Linked DNA regions of Homo sapiens. The protein of the gene in region 3 interacts with the protein of the main gene of each other region in a pairwise test. Each region holds a gene or a part of one and is shown on either strand. Other genes may lie near its edges.

Region 1 (7,041 bases), on a different chromosome or scaffold from region 3:
CTGAAGCACTGAATTCCTATTTTAAACAGGGAATGGTAAATGGTCTTGCCAGGGATGCCCCTTTTCCACTGTTTTCCTGGAGAGCTCTTCTCCACCTGCCTTAGGACTCACAGTTCAAGCATCCCTTCCTCTGTGAAGCCTTTCCTTTTTTTTTTTTTTTTGAGACGGAGTCTTGCTCTGTTACCCAGGCTAGAGTGCACTGGCAGGATCTGAGCTCACTGCAACCTCAGCCTCCCGGGTTCAGGCGAGTCTCCTGCCTCAGCCTCCCGAGTAGCTGGGATTACAGACATGCACCACCACGCCCGGCTAATTTTTGTATTTTTAGTAGAGATGAGGTTTCACCATCTTGACCAGGCTGGTTTCGAACTCCTGACCTAGTGATCCATCCGCCTTGGCCTCCCAAAGTGCTGGGATTACAGGGGTGAGCCACCATGCCTGGCCTGTGAAGCCTTTCCTAATTCCTCTGAACTGACTTAGGTCGCCTCCCCTGTGCTTCCATTAACAACGTACACATACTTCTACAGCAGCACTTACCACACCGTGTTTTAATTGTTTACATGTCTGACTAGCCATAAGCTCTTTGATGGCAAGGGTAATGTTTTACCCATCACTGATTGCACACTTCATAGGCACTCAATAAACACTTGTTAAATGCATTAATAATGGATGATATTGGAAGTCTTAAAGAATGGCAACTATACTTTCTGGATTCCAGACCAAAATTACAGTAAGAATTAACAATGAAGGCTAAACTCTCATTATATGTTTCTACTACATATATCATTCCTGGCCAGAAAAAGAGGCCAAAGATTGGAGAAGATTGCTCTAACAGTGCTGGTCACTGCCAAGCTACCAGCCAAGAATAAGAGCACTTGCAGTATTAAGAATGAACAGAGTCATATCTAAGGCAATTTCTACATTTCAGGCTTCTTTGCCTGCCTCAGGAGAATAGAAACAATGATGAATAAGAGACCTTGGAAGGGTCACAATGTCCACCATCACAAAACCTTGTAGCAAACTGTGATTCAACACAACTTCTGCTGAAATATACAGGAAAGCTCTTCACCTTCTTACCAAATCTACTCAAAGTTCTGCTAAGGAACACAGGGCTGAACTAAGTCCTCCCAGAACCCTGCCATTTGTACAGTGGCATTCTAAATCATTCCTCATGGGATTTACTCATCACTGAAGAGATACAGGCAAAGCAATACAATGCTGTGGTCTCAAATGCCTCTCCCTGTAACAACCTTGTACCTCACAACCCTATTGGGTTTACAGGCTACTAATAAGACACAAAATCTGATCTGATCCTGTGGGAGTAAAGCCCTGGATTCCCTCAAGGGATTAAATAAATGTCGACTACTTCTGGATTCCCAAAGTTGTGGGGTTTATTTAGTTGAAAAAGCATAAGGACCAAAACACAGACAAGTGAAGCGATGGAAAGGAACTTTGCCTCTGAGGATCATCTGCAGCTGAGTGGGATGTGGCTCTTGGCATATAGTGAATGAGATAAGCAATGCTCAAGGGCCATCCAGAACTGTTTTGCTGACAGATATCTGGCTTCTTGCATGTTATTCCTAAGAAGCCAAAAGGCTCCAGTTAGCCTCTTGAAGAGACAAAAAAAATTTGTTTTCACCGTAGGCAAGAGCAATTACCAAGCCAGTAACTCTGACTAGGTGTTTTAGCATATTTCTTTCTGCCACTACAGTCTTACATAACCCCAGCTGTTACGTTAACACCTGCAGCTACATTAGTCACAGCTTAGCCCTTCACAAGGTATGTGTTCCTACTGTCCTCTCCCAAGAAGGGAAACTGAGTCATAGCATATCAACTGGCTTCCCAAGCACATGCTTAGTGTATAGTGAGGCCACAATTGAACCCAGGTGGTCTTCCTACTATTCACCTTTTCTCATGGATGAATCTCAGCATGCCCACCCCTGCTGCTCTTTTTCCTTCAACCTAAAACCAAATCATTGCCTGCAGAGATCATATGTGATCCTTTAGAGTCAACAAGGGCTTCTAGTTATCTTTCCCAAGAAACAGGAAGGTTAACGAGGAACATGGAGCAGGAGAGGGTGGGTTTGGAAAGAGGTGGATCCCAACAGGACTCACCTTGGAGCTGAGGTCCTCTCGTCGGTTTCCTGCCTTACTCCTGCGCAGTTTGATGGATGGAGATCTCAACAGATTCTTGATCCGGCTGGTAATGGTTGACCCTTCCACAGCCATTATGACGAGAAACCCTTTGGGACAGTCCCCGGCCCAGTCCTGGGTCTTGTCTCAACAGCGGCACTGTCTTCCCACTCCAGAGGGCTTCCCAGTATGCCCTCTCACTGACCTGAGATGGCAGAAGCCACCTTAGTATCACAGTGTCTTACCTTCTGCCTAGCGAAGTCTGCAGCTTTTACCTCTGGGTATTGCTCTCACCATTTCCCTCATCCCCACCTTCTAGCCCTGCACAGTTTCTTACAACGTCGGAAGGAAAGGCTCACGAAAAAGGGGGGGAAAATCCTAAGCCACGAAGAAATGCCAGGCCCACGCCCGCCAGAGGCGTTTAACTGGCGAGATGGATGGGATGGGCCCCAGTTGGTCTCGTGGACGATCTGGTTCCCGTTAATGCCCAACTGTTCCCATGGCAACTGTAGTGTCCAAGGGAGGAGGCCGCCGAGACCACCAGGGATTTCCGCAGGCCTGGACACCTGCGCTAGCGCCGGCGGGGACGCGGCGGGGCTCGCCGTAGCCCACAACTCGTTCTGCCACGGGAGCCTCCCTCCCCCACTCCCTATCCTCCAGAGCTCGCTCTCCGCCCTCCACAGCGGCTCTGGACCTTTATCTTTCACCCGCCTCTGAGGCCCCTGCTACTCGTCAGCGCCCCCGTTCGGGCCCAGCCTCACCAGCCTCGGCGAGCTAAGGCCACCCCGCTCACAGCGCCCTCGGGCATCGCGTTCGGCAATTTCAGCTCCGCCGCGGTAGCCGCAGCGGTAGAGGCAGCAGCAGGAGCTATGGTGGCACGATCGGCTCAAAACGCGAACTACCGCCTGGGCCAAGCCGCGGGCTGGGTGGGCGGAGCCGACGCGAGGGGCGCGGCCTGTAGTCAGGAGAGCGCTTCCAGAGTGGACGAGCAAGGTTTACGGGGGCGGAGCCAATGAAAGGGCCCAGGAAGCAGACGGCTTGGGACTAGGGAACCACGGAATCCGCACAATTGCGGGTACCGCTTTTAGAGGAAGGTCAACAGAACATGGCTTCAGAATTGAGAGAACCAAGCCTTTTATGGTATTATCAGGCCTGGTCCCCCATGGAACTGCACTTCCCAGAGCCCCAAGACGATAACCACGCCTCCAGGGTGTTAAGGTTGTCATCTGATAGGCCCGAGGGACCGTAGCTGAAACTCCTAGCTCAGAATTACAAGACTGAGCTACAGCCTAAAAGCTCTGCTCCCAGCGACCACAAGTGTTGAGATTTAAAGCGACTGAAGTAGTTTCTGCTCGCAGCCAGTCCGGCACGTAGACTCAACGTGGAAAGGATTATTCTGAGTAATGCAATTTAATAGCTAAGAACAGTATTTTTGCACTGGGCAACCTGGTCATCATGAAAGGGGAAAGGGTGGCCTTGAACAGAGCTTTGGGCGTGCGGGGGAAAGAGAAGTGAATATGCTATGTTATAATACTTTAGGTTTCATGGCTTCTTTAGCCTCCAACATCCCATTGTGCTTCCTCACCTAAAGCTGACCAGGACTTTGTTGCTCCAGATCTTTTCCTCATTCCATTTACTTATGAATCCTTTTATCTAGGGCTGTTCCTTGCTGAGGTCACTGTCGAGCTTGCTGATACTAGATCGAGGGGTAGTTTTCTAACTCATGTCGGGGGAGGCAGAGGGAATACACGGAAATGTTACATGAAATAGTATTTCCTGAGTATTCTCCACTTGACTACTACCACAAGAAATCACCTTATGAAAAAGCCTAAGCCAGAGACTTGGGTCCCAAGGGAATAGTACACTGGTGTGTCCGTCTCACCCTATCCAGATCTTTTGAATCCCTGTGGAGATGACATGTGTCTGCAAGAGGGAAGAACCTCTAACAAATTATTATACCTTATGAAAAAGCCTAAGCCAAAGACAAGGGACCCAAGGGAGTACTACACTGGTGTGTCTGTCTCACCCTATCCAGATCTTTTGAAACCCTGTGGAGATGACATGTGATAACAAGAGGGAAGAACCCCTAAACTCATTGCTTGTGTACAACGGTGAGCCTTTAGAGCCAAGTGGCAAAGCACATATTTTCTTGTGTATACTGTAGCCACGTACTGAAAATTAGATTTGTAAAGCTCACAAGTTGACATGGAGATGATGGATGTCACCTCCTGGAGACCAACTGGCAATAGCACGTGGCCTTCTTCCCTTCAACCATGCACTGCAAATATTATGAAACAGAAAATACGATTTTCAAATTTATTTCCCAAGTCTGGAAGAAGAAGGCAAGAACCATTAGCTACAATATGCAAGAGGTAGTTGGTTCCTTCAACCTCTTGGTAGTTACATGATGGGACCTCTCCATGGGATTGAAAGCTAATAAATGGTGCCACCTGGTGTCTTTACTTGCATGCTGCAGACCACGGCAGATGCCATCTCCACCCATGAAACTAGAGTAAAAATGTGCCCACAAGAGCCGTCCCTAATCCTCTCCAGATCATTCTGGTGTCCGCTAACGGTTTTCTCACCTGATCACTCATGGCCAGATAAATGGTTTACAAAGTATCACTGGTCATTTCTTTCATGAAAAACAACTGAAAGCATTTTAATGAGGATTTCTTAAGTCTGGAATCTGGGTACTTCCAGTCTTAGGCCAAAGCCACGCTTTTTTTTTTTTTTTTTTTTTTTTTTTAAACAGAGTCTTGCTCTGTCCCCAGACTGGACTGCAGTGGCGATCTCAGCTCACTGCAACCTCCGACTCCTGGTTTCAAGCCATTCTCTTGCCTCAGCCTCCCGAGTAGCTGGGATTACAGGCACGCGCCACCACACCCAGTTAATTTTTGTATTTTTAGTAAAGATGGGGTTTCACCATGTTGGCCAGGAGGTCTCGATCTCCTGACCTCGTGATCCGCCTGCCTTGGCCTCCCAAAGTGCCAGGATTACAGGCGTGAGCCACCATGCCCGGCCCACACATTTTTAATTCTTCACAATTCAGTCCAACTTTTATTGTCTAGGTACTACACTGCCTTTGAGATACCAATATAGGAATAAGCTATATAGGCTATTCCCATTCTTCATTAATTCCTCAGAAAATAACAGTCCCAGGTCTAATGTGAACAGAAGCATTATTCACTTTTCTCCACTCAGATTTACAGTCATGCACTGTATACATTTCAATGACCACATGATCCCATTAAATTATAATATCATATTTTTACCATACCTTTCCTATGTGTAGACACACAAACACCACGTGTTACAACTGCCTATGATATTCAGTGCAGTTAACATGCTGTACAGAGTTGTAGCCTAGGAGCAACACAGCCTAGGTGTGTGGTTAAGCAACACCATCTAGGTTTGTTTAAGTACAGTACACTCTATGATGTTTGCAGAACAAAACCACCCAAGGTGCATTTCTCAGAACGTATCCCCATCATTAAGTGACGCATGACTCTACTTGCCATCCCAATCCTCCAAAATGCAGTTAACTCTTCATAAGTATTTCATCATCCATACACTATTTAACACTTTATTCTACTTTTATATGTCCTAAACATCTATACATAGTGTTTGCCAGCTTCTGAAATTCTAGATGTCTGGGGAATAGACGTTATATAGTTGTCTGTTTAGCACTATACTCATTAGATCAAATTTTAAAATTCACCCTAGGCATAACATGCAAATAAGGTATAAGTTCCTGGGAAACAGTCTAAACATTTGCTCATCAATTCAAATATTTATTGAGCACCTTTACATGCAAAGGCACTGTGCAACAGCTGAGATCAATGATTGCAGTTGGAAACACAATGGATCTCAAAACCATGCTTCCAAGACTGCTTTCCTACTTAATATCTTTTCTACCAGCAGAGTTTACAACAATAGAAATTAGTAGAGTTTAGATTTGTCTCAAAATTTCCAACTCATCCCATAGTCTTCCCATCCTCTTAATGCACCACCATCACTATTCAACACTTATGTGTAGAACAGCTCAGTCATGTCTAACATTAGCTACACCTCAAACAAAAAGTTGTACTTATCAAATTATTTCCCTCTATTCCAAAAAATGCGTTATAACTGATTTTTTTCCTCCAACTGGCAGTGAGTCTGAATATCTCAGCTTTAATTTTCCCTGCACCTAGATATTTGTGTCCATGTAAAATTTCATTAGTAGGCCGGGCGCAGTGGCTCACGCCTGTAATCCCAGCACTTTGGGAGGCCGAGGCGGGCGGATCACAAGGTCAGGAGATTGAGACCATCCTGGCTAACATGGTGAAACCCTGTCTCTACAAAAAAATACAAAAAAATTAGCCGGGCACAGTGTCGGGCGCCTGTAGTCCCAGCTACTCCGGAGGCTGAGGCAGGACAATGGCGTAAACCCGGGAGGCAGAGCTTGCAGTGAGCCAAGACGGCACCACTGCACTCCAGCCTGGGCGACAGAGTGAGACTCTGCCTCAAAAAAAATAAAAATAAAAATTTCATTAGTGATAATACAGTGACATGAAGTACTGATGCCTTTACAGCACCTTCTTCAAAACCAACAGTTTTGTGCAAGAAATGTATTCTGATTCTTGGTTATCAGTCATTCTCTATAAAAGTACCTGGAAAATGTGCTGTGTATGGTTTGTTGTTGTTTAATTCTGGAGTGAGGGACAAGGGCTGTCACTATTTTCTAGACCCGTTTTTAAAGTGCATCACCCTATTTGATTTCAAATATCTCAACCAGTATAGTTAGAAAAAAAATTATCTAAACCACTAAACCAAAAATAACATATGGATTGTCTGCCTTTCTTGTGTGTTCAAAACATTTTCAAACTTGTTATAGAAGAGCCTAGCATCAGGTATTTCATCTGTAAT
Region 2 (7,111 bases), on a different chromosome or scaffold from region 3:
AGACCACATATACAACAGTGGTCCCGTAAGACTTTAGTATCATATTTTTACTCTACCTAGATGTTTATATACACAAATACTTACCATTGTGTTACAACTGCATATAGTATTTAGTAGTAGAGTAACATGCTGTATAGGTTTGTAGCCTAGGAGCAATAAGCTATAAGCTTAGCACACTCTTATGTTAGCACAAGGAAAAGAAAATCGCCTAATGATGTATTTCTCAGAGCACATCTTTGTCATTCAGTGATGCATGACTGTATATCATAAGTTCTCAAAGAAATAAAACTTAAATATAAACCTTGGTCTTCAAAACATTTAACAGTATTTAAAAAGAGAGAGATTTTACCCTTATTAGTTGTATTTGTTAAAGTCCCAGTAACTTGGTTGGTATAAGGATTGTGCTCAACCATACTTGCTCAACAAAGGAAAGTAAGATTTAATAAAGTCAACAAGTTTTTAAAAAATGAGGTTTTAGAGCTAAACTGAATTTAAAAAAAAAAACAAAAACTCACAAGCTCATTTGCCCAAATTCATCCTGTAAAGTCTGTAAGACTTCTGACAACTCCTCATTAATACCGTTGGAGGAGGGAGGTGTTACTGACAACTTCTTACTTTTACCACCTCGTGAAGATACTTGCTTTGCCAAAGGAATACTGTTGATGACTCGATCATTGCACAAAGCTTTACTGTGTTGCTTCATTAGATGCAAGACAAGCTGAACATTGGCTACCACGGCATGGCTAGGGCTTGTGGACTAAAGGAAGAAAAATGATGAAAGAAGTAATTGAAGTTATATTCTCTACACCACTTTCTATTCCCTAAGCCTAGGTAAAAAGAACTCTCCACCCCCTAAAGTAGAGTATATAAATCCTAAAATTATTCTCATCATGATGTTCTTCTATTTGAAATCCTTTGATATAAATCCACTAACTATGTTTCAGAATGGAAAATAAGGCCCTACATACACATCATTGAGCTGCAACCTACATTTCCTAGCCTCATGTCCTATCATCCTCCCCTTCTCTCCATTTTGTGAACAAACCATATTTGCAGATGACATTTTTTTGGTGTATTAGCAACATTTATATCATTCTTTAAAACCCAGTTCAAATATATTATTTTTAAAGGCTTCCTTAAAACTGCCAGGTAATCAATCAGTCCATTATCAGATCACCTATAACACTTTTTACATCTCTCTCATAGCATTTATCATATTTTAATTGCTTTTACATATCTATTTCACCTATTAAACAGTGTACATCCAGGTGGTAGACACTATTGTTCATTTCTGTATCCTGGAATAATAGGAAGCACTAAATTACATGTCTATCACGTGTGTAAGAAAAACCTGATAGACTTCTCAAAGATATTTTGCTTTTGTTTTAAACACTAAACCAACAATCTCAATGTACTATTCCACTTTATAAATAGATGGCTGGGCTTACTTGGCTCCATAAATATTATTAGAAAGCATATTTAAAATGCAGGTTCCTAGGCAGCACACCAAACTCACTGCAGAGTTAGGGTTTGGAAATTTGTGTTTTCAAGTCCTCCAGTTGATTTTGATTAGCCAGATTTGGAACCACCATGCTAAGCTAAACATATGCTTTCCTTCTAATCTTAGTTTCTATTGTTAGCTAGCAAAGTGAATGCAGCAGTATTATATATCACATCCAAGTGGGAGTTTATTACATCAATGCAAGGCTGGTCCACTATTCAAAAATCAATCGATGTAACCACTATTTTGCTCGTAACTTGTAATATATATTTAGCATACTAATTGCCTATGAGTACACTTTCAATATGCAATAATTTAAAAAATTCTCGTTCTGTTATTTTTCTGATTATATTAATATGCACTTGACCCTTGAACAATGGAGGGGTTAGGGGCACCGACCACCCATGTAGTCAAAACTCTGCCATAATGAAATTTTTTTTTCCTTCAACTTTTAAGTTCTGGCGTACATGCGCAGGTTTGTTATATAGGTAAATGTGTGTCATGGTGGTTTGCTGCACAGATCAACCCATCACCTAGGTATTAACCCCAGCATCCATTAGGTACTCTTCCTGATGCTCTCCCTCCCCGTTGACCAACTCCCCCACCAAACAGGCTCCAGTGTATGTTGTTCCCCACTATGTGTCCATGGGTTCTGATCATTCAGCTCCCACTTATGTAACTGAGAACTATAATAAATTTTGCCCTAAAATGTAATAGCCTGCTGTTGACTGGAAGCATTTTTGTTTTATGTATTGTAAGCAATATTCTAAAAGTAAAGTTAGAAAAAAATATTAAGAAAATCCTAAGGAAGAGAAAGTATATTTACTATTCATTAACTGGATCACCATACAGGCCTTCATCCCCATTATCTTCACTGTTGAGTAGGCAGAAGGGTAGGGTTGGTCTTGCTGTCTCAGGAGTGGCAGAGGCAGAAGAAGTGGAGGGGGAGGCAGGAGAGGCTAGCACATTCTGTGTAACTTTACAGAAATACACTATAATTTGTCTTGACTTTTCTGCTTTTTCATTTCTCTAAAAATGTTTCTATGAGATACCAATTCTTCCACCATTTGTTTTAGTTTCAGTGATGTATCATAGAAGGGTCGATGTCGTAAAAGTCAAAAGCAGGCTGGGCGCAGTGGCTCAGCCACTGGGATTACAGTGGGATTACAGAATCCCAGCACTTTGGGAGGCTGAGGCAGGTGGATCACCTAAGGTCAGGATTTCGAGACCAGCCTGGCCAACATGGAGAAACCCTGTCTTTACTAAAAAAATACAAAAATTAGCCAGGCATGGTGGCGCGTGCCTGTTGTCCAGGTACTTGGGAGGCTGAGGTGGGAGAATTGCTTGAACCCAGGAGGCAGAGGTTGCAGTGAGCTGAGATCGTGCCACTGCACTCCAGCCTGAGTGACAGAGCGAGACTCCGTCTCAAAAAAAAAAAAAAAAAAAAAGTCAAAAGCAGTCTTGAATAATTAGAACCCTTCTGTCAGATTATCTAATGTCAACTTGTTTTCTGACATTACTTCTGTGTTGTCTTCTTCATCTTGTGGCACTGGTTTGAAAGCACTCTTATCCATCCCAGTCATCTTCTGTTAATTCCTCTATCATGGTGTCTACTGACTCTTTAATTTCTCCAAAATTCGTATCTTGAAATCCTTCACCTCCAACCTTTTTTGCCATATCTACCATCTTTTTCATGATTGGCTTTGTCATAAATCCTGTGAAATCATGCATATCACCTGGAGAGTTTTCTCCAACAGGAATTTATTATTTCAGACTTGATGGCTTTCATGACTTTTTCTATAAAAATGATGGCATCATCTTCAACTGTAATCCTTCCAGACCCTCATAATGTTCTCTCTGAAGTTCTCTTCCACAGCATTAAGAACCCTTTTTATAGTGTATGTAATGTGCCTTAGAAGTCCTTATGCTCCCTGATCCAGAGGGTGAATTAGACACACTGTGTTTAGGGACAAGTAGACTACTTCCATGCCTTTGGTGTTGAACTTCCATGCTCCTGGGTAGCTAGGGGCAATGCCTAGTATTAAAAAGACTTTAAAAGGCAGTCTCTTACTGGCAAATTACTTCCTGACTTCAGGGACAAAGGATTGATGGATCAATGTTTTTTCTAAATCCAGTTTAGAAAAAGGGTTCTCAAAGGGTCATTCTTGTTGTAAACCCAAAGACTGGCAGTTGGGTATATTTCCCCTTGAAGGCTCAGGGATTAGCAGCTTTATAGATAAGGGCAGTCCTGATTGTAAATCGGATTGTGTTTTCACAAAATAGTAGATTTAGCCCGTCTCCTCTTTCCTTAAATCCTGGTGCTGACTTGTCCTCCTTACTTATAAATATCCTTCGTGGCATCATGTTTTTCCAGAATAGGGTACTTCTGTCTGCATTAAAAGCCTGTTCAGGAAGATACCCTTTCTCCTCAATGATTTTCTTAATGGTATCTTGGGATTCATCTGCTGCCTCTTGGTCAGCAGAAGCTGCTTCTCCTATCTTGACATTTTTAAAGCCAAACCTCTAAAATTATCAAGCCATCCTTTGCTGGAATTAAATTCTCCAGCTTTAGATACCTCACCTTCCTTTTAAGTTGTCATATAATGACTTTCCTTTTTCTCAAATCATATTAGAGTCTACAAGTATGCCTTTCTTATAGCAATCCTGCATCCACATAAAAGCTGCATTTTCAATGAGATAAAAAGCTATTTTGCAAAAAGCACAAGGTTTTGGCACCTGCTAGAGTAGCTGCAGTGACAGATTCACAATTTCCTTTTTTTTTTAAAAAAAATTTTTTAAAGAGGATCTTACTCTGTTGCCTATGCTGGAGTACAGTGGTGCCATCATCGCTTACTACAGTCTCGAACTCCTGGGCTACAGTGATCCTCTTCTGTCAGCCTCCTGAGTAGCTGGGACCACAGGTGCACGCCAACATGCCGGGATCATTTTTTTTTTTTTTTTTTTTTTTACAATAGGCCTTCAGCTGGATTCATTTATTTTGAAATGGTGGACAACCGCAGCTGCAGACCTCAATCTATGGTACATATCAAGCAATGCAACTTTTTCTTGTCATGTCATGACTTTTGTCTGCTTCTTGGGAGCACTTCCACCATCATTAGTAGCACTTGATATGGGTCCCATGATATTATTCAAATTATTTACTGTATTGTGCTAAACATGATGGAAAATATGGAACTGCTAGAGAACACTTTTTACTGTGATACACAATTGACTGGAGAGATGAACTGCTCATTTGAAGATGATTAGCGTCACGTGGCATTTTAAGTGAATACTCCCAACCCTTGAGCTCATCACAATGGCAACAGAAGGTGGCTACAAAATTATCAGTCGTACAGTATGTACTACAGTTAATTTTATACAGTTATGATTTCATACTGCATCTTTATCTCTGTTTACATTTCTCTGGACTGTGAATGGCGTCACGTAGTCTGTGTGCAAATTGTTTTGATAAATTATAATTAAAAAAAACTTGTGTATATTTTATGGTAGTAAATGATAAAATGCACTAGTATTGACATAGTCAATTTTATGCATCTATGACATACCAACTTTTTCTTAACTTCTGATATTTCTAAGCTATAGTTTGCAAGTTTTTTCAAATTGCCAAAAATCTCCAAAAAATTTTCCAAGATACTTATTGAAAAAAAAAATCTGCCTGTAAGTAGACCCACACAGAGTTCGGACTCATGTTGTTCAAGGGTCAACTGTACCTTTTTCAAATGCTTGTCACCACTAATTTATTATATTCCCCATGATTTCACTGCGAATTTACTAGGGGTTTAAAATAAATAAATATAAACAAATACAAAATTCAGAAGAACATTTACTTCCCAAGATGCCAGAATAACAATCTAGTTGGAATCTAAATATAAAACCACCAGCAACACAAACAGCTTATAAAGTAGTGTCAACTAGCACAGTTTTAGGCACTTCACTCAGTACTTGATATATGACAATACAGCTTTACATTCAAGTGCTGAAGAAACTGAAGATTCAAGTGTACGTATGACTGCTTCTTGGAGAATTAGTCCTAGAAATGATCTGGATGTGAGGACAAGCAGAATGTGCTACGTGCTTATTCGAATATCTACCTATATCTAAATGTAACTCAACAGGATTGATACTAAAAATCCAATGCTACAAACATACTATTTCTTATTTCCTTGACCCCTATCTGAAACAACACCTTCTTCAACTTAGGGTCTCTGTTTTATCACTTCCTTTCCACATATACTTTATCTACTTTAAGGTATCCTCCCCATCTCTTCCTTGCTTCCCTAATCCCCAAAAACCTCCCTACATCTCATTTTCACATCACTGTGATCCACACACTGGTAAAGGCACAGAAAAATGTTCCTTCCATTTGTAGACATACTTGCAGATGCAGGGACTTAATTCAGGGATCAATGTTGTATAAAAAGAATCCGGAGTTTGACCAACTCACCTTCCCAGCTACAAATGGCATATCACCCAAGCATAATCTATAATGTGGTTGTGCACCAAAATAGTTCCTAGAACTTTTCTGAATGAAAAGAAAAGGAAAACAATTTTATTTTATTCACATGATAATAAAAACTGACTATACATGACTAACTTGAAACTTCAGTTAACTACTAGGCTACTACTTGCCTTATCTATAGTTGGCATTATGATCACAAGCCAGCTCCTAATAGTACTTGTTAGCATATATCCTAGCCTAGGAAAGGCTGGGGGGAAAAAAGCACTTGACAAAACAACAGTTACATTCTAAGTAGAAAATCAGTATACATATACACAAAACATTGTAAGAGCACAAGATAATGCAGTACTAATAATGCTAATTTTGTATGGTGTTCTGTAGTTCCAAAATGCTTATATATTTTCTCACTATCAGGATAAAAATTTAGGAGTAGGTATTACTTATCTCCACCTTCTGAATGAAGAAATTGAGAATGAAAGATTTACTCTCTCAAGGTTGTAGTACACCACACAGTTTATGGGTGTTTTGACATAAACTATACCAAGTAATCAGCATTTTGCCTGATTTGGTTCTGTCTTCACACCTTTTCTGGTGGTTTTGACTTCTTTTTTTTAATTCTTCTTGCATTGGGAACACACGGAGTTGCCTTATCTTCAAAGATAAGTCTATTTGTTTCTAGACCAGTCTGCAACTAGGAAAAATGAGAGCCTCAAGTTAATGCTGTAGAAATAAAAGCTATGACTCAGATTTCAGATGTGTCATGTAAAAAGCCTGTAAAAACCAATGGTAGTATCTAACTGAAAAACATATTACAGCTGTATAACTATGTCTTGAACCAATCTATCAACGTTTGTCAAATATTTTAAATAAATACCAGTCTCTCATTTTATCTTGACCTTCTGTTATAATTTGTCCCTTCTTCAGCGTGGAACACATTATCTCCAGTATTTGTAGTTACTCCATAAATTCTATCTAACGAGTTAAATGCAATGTATCTAACCCCAAACCATTGCTTAAATATATTCTTTTCAAAAATGGCATCTACTACATTACCAGACACAAAACAGCCGAAGAGCAGAATACATTTCTTCCCTTTCTAAAAAGCCATGCACTTACTATATAAGAAAAAG
Region 3 (7,111 bases):
GCAAGCTGGCTTGGCTGGAGGCTGCCCTGCAGCGAGCTAAGCAGGATGTGATGTAGCAGCTGTGTGAGTACTGAGAGCTGTGATCGTCAAGTGGGGCCTGGACTTTGAGATTGCTGCCTGCCACAAGCTGCTGGAGGGTGAAGAGAGTGGATGATGGGTCAGCTGGGAAGTGCTTCAGATGTGGCTGCAGTGAGGAGTGCAGGGGCACAGGGCAGCACCACGCTCATCAGCCAGGGAAGGGTGGAGAGAGATGACCTAGGTATCCAGGAACTCGTTCCTCTAGAGCTAGGTTTCTCTCACCATCTTACAGCCCTTTGAACAAAAAGTTCTAGCTGATGTGTACTTTTGGCACCTGGGACGGGGTGACCCATAGTCATCCACCCCAGTATCAGAGACCAGGGGCCGGTTTGTCCATGGAGACAGCTGCAGGGACCAAGGCCTAGCCAGTGGGAATAAGGTCTCTGTGTGAAGTGCCTTCTTCTCAACTCTGCCCCTCTCCCCAGGCCTGGGGAAGGTGGGGTTACATGACCAGGTGGGGCTTGGCTTTCAACTCAGTAGACAACAGTAGGAGACAAGGGCTGTCACCAGGCTAGGGGAGGGAGGGGGAACTGATCACCCATGCCACAGGCATATTGCATTGATCACCTCCTTTAACACCTCACAAAACCCTGGCAGGGAGGTCCTATTATCCCCATTTTACAGATGAGGGGTAAGTTTCAGAGAGGTTAAGTGACAGCTTTAGGGACACACACTAGTCTTCAGATTATGGAGCTACCTGCTCTGGGGTCTCCTGTAGAGGTTTAAAATGTTCCCTCACGGTCTCACCTTCCAAGATCAAGTCAGGCCAAAGAAAGTGTAGTTTTTTTTTTTTTTTTTTTGGTCTTCTCTTTCCTCCAAAAAGTCATCAACAAAAGTGAGTTATATGAATTTAAGGCAGGAGTGATCAGAGAGCGCCAGGGAGCTTGCAGGGTGGAAGGACTGCTGTCTGGGAGGGTCAGGAGTGTGTGTCCTGGGGAATGCAGAATACCAAACCTAGTAGACAGATGGACTCACCTGCTTCCTTCTTTCCGCTGGCTTGGTCTGGGATTTGGGGCAAGGAGCATCAGTAAGTAAACAGTAGGCTGGCATGGTCGGATCTTATCTTATTATCTTATTCTCCTTATTCCCTCCTTCCCCGTCCACACCTTGGCGTGCCTCCTCTTGAGAAGGCAGAAGGGCTGTGTTTCTGTTCCTGTGTCTGTGACAGCTCCCTCTGTGCCTCTCCTTTTGTCGGGGGCTATTTCTTCTCTCGGGGGTGACTGCGTTTGCGTGTGTGGGGAAGGGGGTCCTGTGGTCTGTTCTCTGGGGAGAGGTCTGTTTACCTGTTCCTTTCGGGGAGTTTGTACATCTGTCTCCTGGTGGGGAGGAGGGTCTGTGTATCTGGAGGAGATGTCTGCAAGTCTGTCTTCTGGGGCTTGGGGTGGGGGGAGGAAGGGCTTTCCTCCCTCGGACAGTCGTCCTCCGTTCAGCCGGGCTCCGCCTGCCTGCTCCAGCCCCGAGCAGGCTCCGGCGCCCTGGAGACGAGCGCCCCTGGCGGCGGCTACGCGCTCTGCGGCTCTCCCGGCTGTGTCCGTGGGCTTTAGCTACACAGCTCCCGCAGATGTTGAACCCTTCCCGCCTCCCTCCGGAGAAGACAAGGAACCCTCAGCTTCTGCCCTAAAGACTTAGCCCTCTTGTGTCAGATGCCCCCTCCCATAGAGCTGACCCCACATCATCTTTCCTTTTTGCCTCCCACACCGGGACGTGAGGCGTTGGAGCACAGCTTACAGGACTATGACTGACCATCCCCAGTGCAGATGGCCTGGACGCTGGTGCCATTGGGTAGAGGTGGCCAGCTTACCTGGACCAAGAACCCTGCCCCTCTGAACTGTTCCCACCCCTTCTTTCCAGGGACTTCTCTGCAATAAAAAGTTGTGGAGTGGTCTGAGCTGCCAGGAGTTTAAACCCGGATTCTCCAGGCCATTCCCAGAGCACAGACAAACCTGGCTGCGGTGGAGGGGTCAGGGCGAGAACAGTACCAGGAAGCAACCTCCTCCCCTCCTGCTGTGAGGGTCTATGTGACTTAAGTATATGATGATTCGATATTATAGAACCAGAGTCTTTAGGATGGGGAGCCCGGAGTCCATGGGGAAAGCGAGAGAAAGGGTTCATTCATGCAGAAGAGTCTAGCCTGGGGCCCATAGCTTCTGGGCAGCAGAGCTGAGAATTCCATTCTCCATCCATCCATTCACTCTACACATACTTACTGAATGGCCTCATAGTGCTTGGTTCAGGGGACAGGATGGTGAGGAAGACACTCTAGGATTCCTGGAGATGAGGTTCTGGGTAGGGAGGTGGGCCATAGACGAGGAAACCGAGCAGAAACAGAAAAGGGTGAGATGGGGATTGGGCCAGTGCCTTCTATCACCCTGATGGGGCATTTGAAGACAGGTGGCCCTTGCAGATGGGGGCTGGAGAGAGATGAACACAATTGGGTGGCCCAAGCTTGGGTTCTGGTTTAACACACAATTGGGCCACCGAGTTGTGTTAATATGATCTGGTGGCGGGCAGAGGAACAACACACTATGGTGGAGGAAATTGTGGGCTGTGAAATCAGACGGAGGCTCCAGCTCTGTCTCTACTTCAGATCCAGGGTGTAAGTTGGTCCGAGTTTTTACAAGGCATTGGATTTTGGTGGTCGGAAGATAGAGTGGGGTGGCTAGATAAAGGCTGGATTTCTGGGTTCTTTCCCTGCCACACAGACCCAAGAGAAGCTTCTGTACAGTGAGCCCACATTCCTTTCTATTGCATGAAATTACATCATCAATGCAACAATAGTTTCTGCTTTCTATGTCCCTGGGTGGGGCTGAAGTGCGTCATTGGCCAGAGGCTTGGGCTTTACTTTTTAAGGCACTCTAGTGCCAGAGTGTCTGCTGTGTTCTTCTGGGTGCCTGCCCAGAGGACAGGTATCCAAAAGGCCCTCTTCTTGTGTAAACAGAAAAGTCTCATGCAAGAGGAATGGGACTGAAACTTGGCTAGCCGGATGCCACCCTCCTGAGGGGTAGGGGGCATGACCCCACTGGGCTCACACATCAGCCCTGGTTGATAAATACTGACCTGCCAACACTCGCAAATGCAAACAAGCTGCCTGAAGATTCTTTCAAGATTCTTTAGTCCAGCTCTGTGCTCCTTGCATTTTGCTAGGGGATCATGAGATTCTCTGCTATTCAAGCCCAATTTTCTCCAGCTCCTGCTATGATGATCATGTCAACAAGGGAACTTTGTGGGAATTGTAGGCAGGATCTAGGATGTACATTCTGCAACCTGCGTCACTCAGGACTGTTGCTCACATTTTCCCTTTTCAAATACCGAACCTGGACTTGCCTGATGTCAATCCAGAAGATCCCCAGGGCTTTGGGGTCAGGTTTGAGTTTCTTCCTGGGCCAGGGCCCTGTGGATCACAAGCAATGTTTGTGGTTTGGAGACTAATTCCCTGAGAGGCTCCCCTGGCCATGGGCCACATTCCAGACTGGGGTGGGAGGAAACTGCCCAGTGCATTTATGGAGAGTCATTCCCCAGCCCATTTATAAGCTTTGTGAGTCGGGTGGCTTCTGAAGGGAGGAGGGCTGTCCTCAGTTCAGTCATTGCTTCTCAGCAGAAGGGCACTATAAGGTGTGAGTCCTCTGTTGGCTCTGCATGCCTGCCTCACACTCCGTTGTATTTAAACATGTCAGATGCTAACTTGGCTGTGGTCATGTCTCTATCTGAGCCCCAGGAGGGCAGTGAAGGTCTCATCCATCCTCAGGGTCTGCCACAGAGTAGATGTGATGGGGTTGAGGCTGCATGGTCCTGGTTGGTGTGTCCTGTCCTGAGATGTATTGGGCCCTGTTTTTGACCATTGGCATGTGGCATTCTGCATAACCCCTTGGAAGTCTCTTGTGGAGTCTAAATGCAGTCCTTCCTGCTGTGATTTCAGCTGTAAGAGATCAACCAGACCAGCCTGGAGTAAGGAAGGAAGGGCCTTGATCCTGTTCCCAGTCTTATTCTTACCTTGTCCAAACTCTTCACCTGTTTCTGGGCCTCAGTCCTGCCCTCCTCTAGATCTAAATTGTGAAGATTCTTTTTTTCCTTCTTATTTAATTTTAAATTTATTTTTGTAGTGATGAAGTCTTGCTCTATCACCCAGGCTAGAGTGCAGTGGCAGGATTATAGCTCACTGCAGCCTCAACCTCCTGGGCTGAAGCGATCCTCCTGCCTCAACCTCCTCAGTAGCTGGGACTACAGGCACATGCCTCCACGCTCTGCTAATTAAAAAAAAAGTTTTGTAGAGATGGGGTCTCACCATACTGCCCAGGCTGGTCTCAAACTCTTGGCCTCAAGCAATCCTCCTGCCTCAGCCTCCCAAAGTGCTGGGATTACAGATGTGAGCCACTGTGCTTGGCTTTCTTTTTCCTTGTTTTCTTCCCTACTTAGTCCCTCTGAGCCAAAGGTTAGCTGCAAAATAGAGTAACTATCAGAGGGTTGTTTGAGAAAAGGTATTGCTGCATGTAAAGTGCTTAAAGCATAGGAAGTTATGTAAGTGTAACTATTATTTCACTTACTGGAATTCTTTAGAAGGTTTTTGAGCCCCCTGAAACAATTTTTTTTTTTTTTGAGACAAAGCCTTGCTCTGTCGCCCAGGCTGGACTGCAGTGGCGCAATCTTGGCTCACTGCAAGCTCCGCCTCCCGGGTTCACACCATTCTTCCGCCTCAGCCTCCCAGATAGCTGGGACTACAGGCGCCTGCCACCGTGATGGGCTAATTTTGTTTTTGTATTTTTAGTAGAGACGATGTTTCTCTGTGTTAGCCAGGATGGTCTCGATCTTCTGACCTCGTGATCCGCCCGCCTCAGCCTCCCAAAGTGCTGGGATTACAGGCGTGAGCCACCGCGCCCGGCCAAGTTTTGAGCCCCTTTAAAGAAAGCTCTCCAAAGTCCAAGGGTGGCTGAACTCCATCTGCCCCACCTGGAGTGAGAGTGACCATAGGGCAGGAGGAATAAGTAGGCAAGCCTAGGGGTTAGAGCAAGGGCTCCTTGGCCAGAGGGCACCTCCCTAGTATGACCCCCAGCAGCATCTGCCCATCACTACGCCCACTTTAGCCCCACTCCCCATCGGTGACCCCTACCTCACCAGCACACATGGGTCTACCCATGTACCCACACTGCACTCACATCCACATGTACCCACAAATCTCCCTTTTTCAGCACATAGATGCACACATGTCCACCATGTATAATCACACATTTAGAAACCCTCACCATCTCTCTCACACACACGTTTCCACACAGGTGCCTGGAATGTGCATGTACCTGGATGCAATCATATTGCTCCACTCGCAGTTACCTCTAGGCATTGAGCAATGCAGAATGAATATACAAACAACATGCGCATACACTGCACAGTTGCATGAAACCTGGACTCCCCATTTCCCTCTAGCCCCTAATCCTGTCCCACCTCTCCCAAAGAATAACAGAGTTGACTGGGTGCGGTGGCTCATGCCTGTAATCCCAGCACTTTGGGAGGCTGAGGTGGGTGGATCACAAGGTCAGGAGTTTGAGACCAGCCTGGACAATAAGGTGAAACCCCGTCAGTACTAAAAATACAAAAATTAGCCCGGTGTGGTGCAGGCACCTGTAGTTCCAGCTACTTGGGAGGCTGAGGCAGGAGAATTGCTTGAACTAGTGAGGTGGAGGTTGCAGTGAGCTGAGCCTGCACCACCGCACTCCAGCCTGGGCAACAGGGTGAAACTGTCTCACAAAAAAAAAAAAAAAAAAAAAAAAGAATAATAGAGCTTTAAATTGGTAAGGGATGTTAGTAGCCACCTAATCCAAGCATTTTTTTTTTTTTTTTTTTTTTTTTGAGACAGAGTCTCGCTCTTGTTGCCCAGGCTGGAATGCAATGGCGCCATCTTGGCTCACTGCAACCTCCACCTCTCAGGCTCAAGCAATTCTCCTGTCTCAGCCTCCCAAGTAGCTGGAATTACAGGCACATACCACCACGCCTGGCTAATTTTTTGTATTTTCAGTAGAGATGGGGTTTCTTCCTATTGGTCACGCTGGTCTCAAACTCCTGACCTCAGGTGATCTGCCCACCTCGGCCTCCCAAAGTGCTGGGATTACAGGCGTGAGCCACCACGCCCAGCCCCAAACATTGTATTTCATTAGCAGATACACTAAGGCCCAGAGATGGGAGGTGACTTGCTAAAGGTCACACAGTGAGATGTTCCATTTTCTTCACCATTCTGCACCCGGGGCATTATGTGTTTGATTCCTTCCCGCCTTGCTCCTCTGTCTGAGCCTGTGCAGGAATGGGAACCTAGAGGGAGGTGAGGATTGTGGGGCCGGAGTAGGAAGGAAGAGAGGGTCAGAGCTAGAGGGAGAGTGAGGGAGTGAAATACGGCAGGTCACTAAGGCCCAGCTAGGCTGAAGTTGGAATAGGTGAGAAGTCCATCAGGACTGGAGTTGTAGTTGGCTTCTGAACTAGGGAGGGATGGAGCTGGTGCTTGAGTCTCAGGTCTGGACTCCTGACAGGGGCTGCTGCTGCTGCTGCTGCTTCTTGTTTTTTTATTTTTTTGAAACAGGGTCTTGCTGTGTCGCCCACGCTGGAGGCAGTGGCACAAACATGGCTCACTGTGCGGCTTCAACTTCCTGGGCTCAAGCTGTCCTGCTTCGGCCCCCTAAGTAGCTGGGACTATAGGTGCACACCACGTCGCCCAGCTAATATTTTTATATTTTATAGAGATAGAGTCTCACTGTATTGTCTGGGCTGATCTCTAACTCTGGGGCTCAAGCGATCTTTTCACCTTGGCCTCCTAAAGTGTTGAGATTATAGGTGTGAGCCACTGCACCTGGCCTAGGGCCAGCTTCTGAGCTGTGTGATGTCACAGCATACAGGGCTGGTTGGAATGATTGATCACAAATTCTGGAACTTTCTAGGATTGTGTCCCTCTCAGAATTCCATCAGGGGTGGCTGAGAGACCTTGGTTTGATTCTAGCTTTTACAGGAGAATTTGTTCTTTTCAGTCCACTCACTTCTGGTCTCTTAATATTCTTAA

Evidence for each region.
Region 1: the proteins of KRT86 (region 3) and MAPKBP1 interact in binary tests that used the Homo sapiens proteins (3 or more experiments, as listed by UniProt).
Region 2: the proteins of KRT86 (region 3) and CEP57 interact in binary tests that used the Homo sapiens proteins (3 or more experiments, as listed by UniProt).

Annotation. Positions count from the first base shown.
Region 1 is NC_000015.10:41,770,461-41,777,501, reverse strand, and holds the start of MAPKBP1 (mitogen-activated protein kinase-binding protein 1), read right to left. Parts: upstream 3,019-7,041; 5' UTR 2,892-3,018; intron 2,336-2,891; 5' UTR 2,227-2,335; coding exon 2,113-2,226; intron 1-2,112. UniProt on the Homo sapiens protein: Negative regulator of NOD2 function. It down-regulates NOD2-induced processes such as activation of NF-kappa-B signaling, IL8 secretion and antibacterial response. Involved in JNK signaling pathway.
Region 2 is NC_000011.10:95,821,432-95,828,542, reverse strand, and holds part of CEP57 (centrosomal protein of 57 kDa), read right to left. Parts: intron 6,673-7,111; coding exon 6,565-6,672; intron 6,559-6,564; exon of another isoform or gene 6,209-6,558; coding exon of another isoform or gene 6,152-6,208; intron 6,045-6,151; coding exon 5,967-6,044; intron 758-5,966; coding exon 516-757; intron 1-515. UniProt on the Homo sapiens protein: Centrosomal protein which may be required for microtubule attachment to centrosomes. May act by forming ring-like structures around microtubules. Mediates nuclear translocation and mitogenic activity of the internalized growth factor FGF2, but that of FGF1.
Region 3 is NC_000012.12:52,277,580-52,284,690, forward strand, and holds part of KRT86 (keratin, type II cuticular Hb6), read left to right. Parts: intron 1-1,361; exon of another isoform or gene 1,362-1,577; intron 1,578-7,111.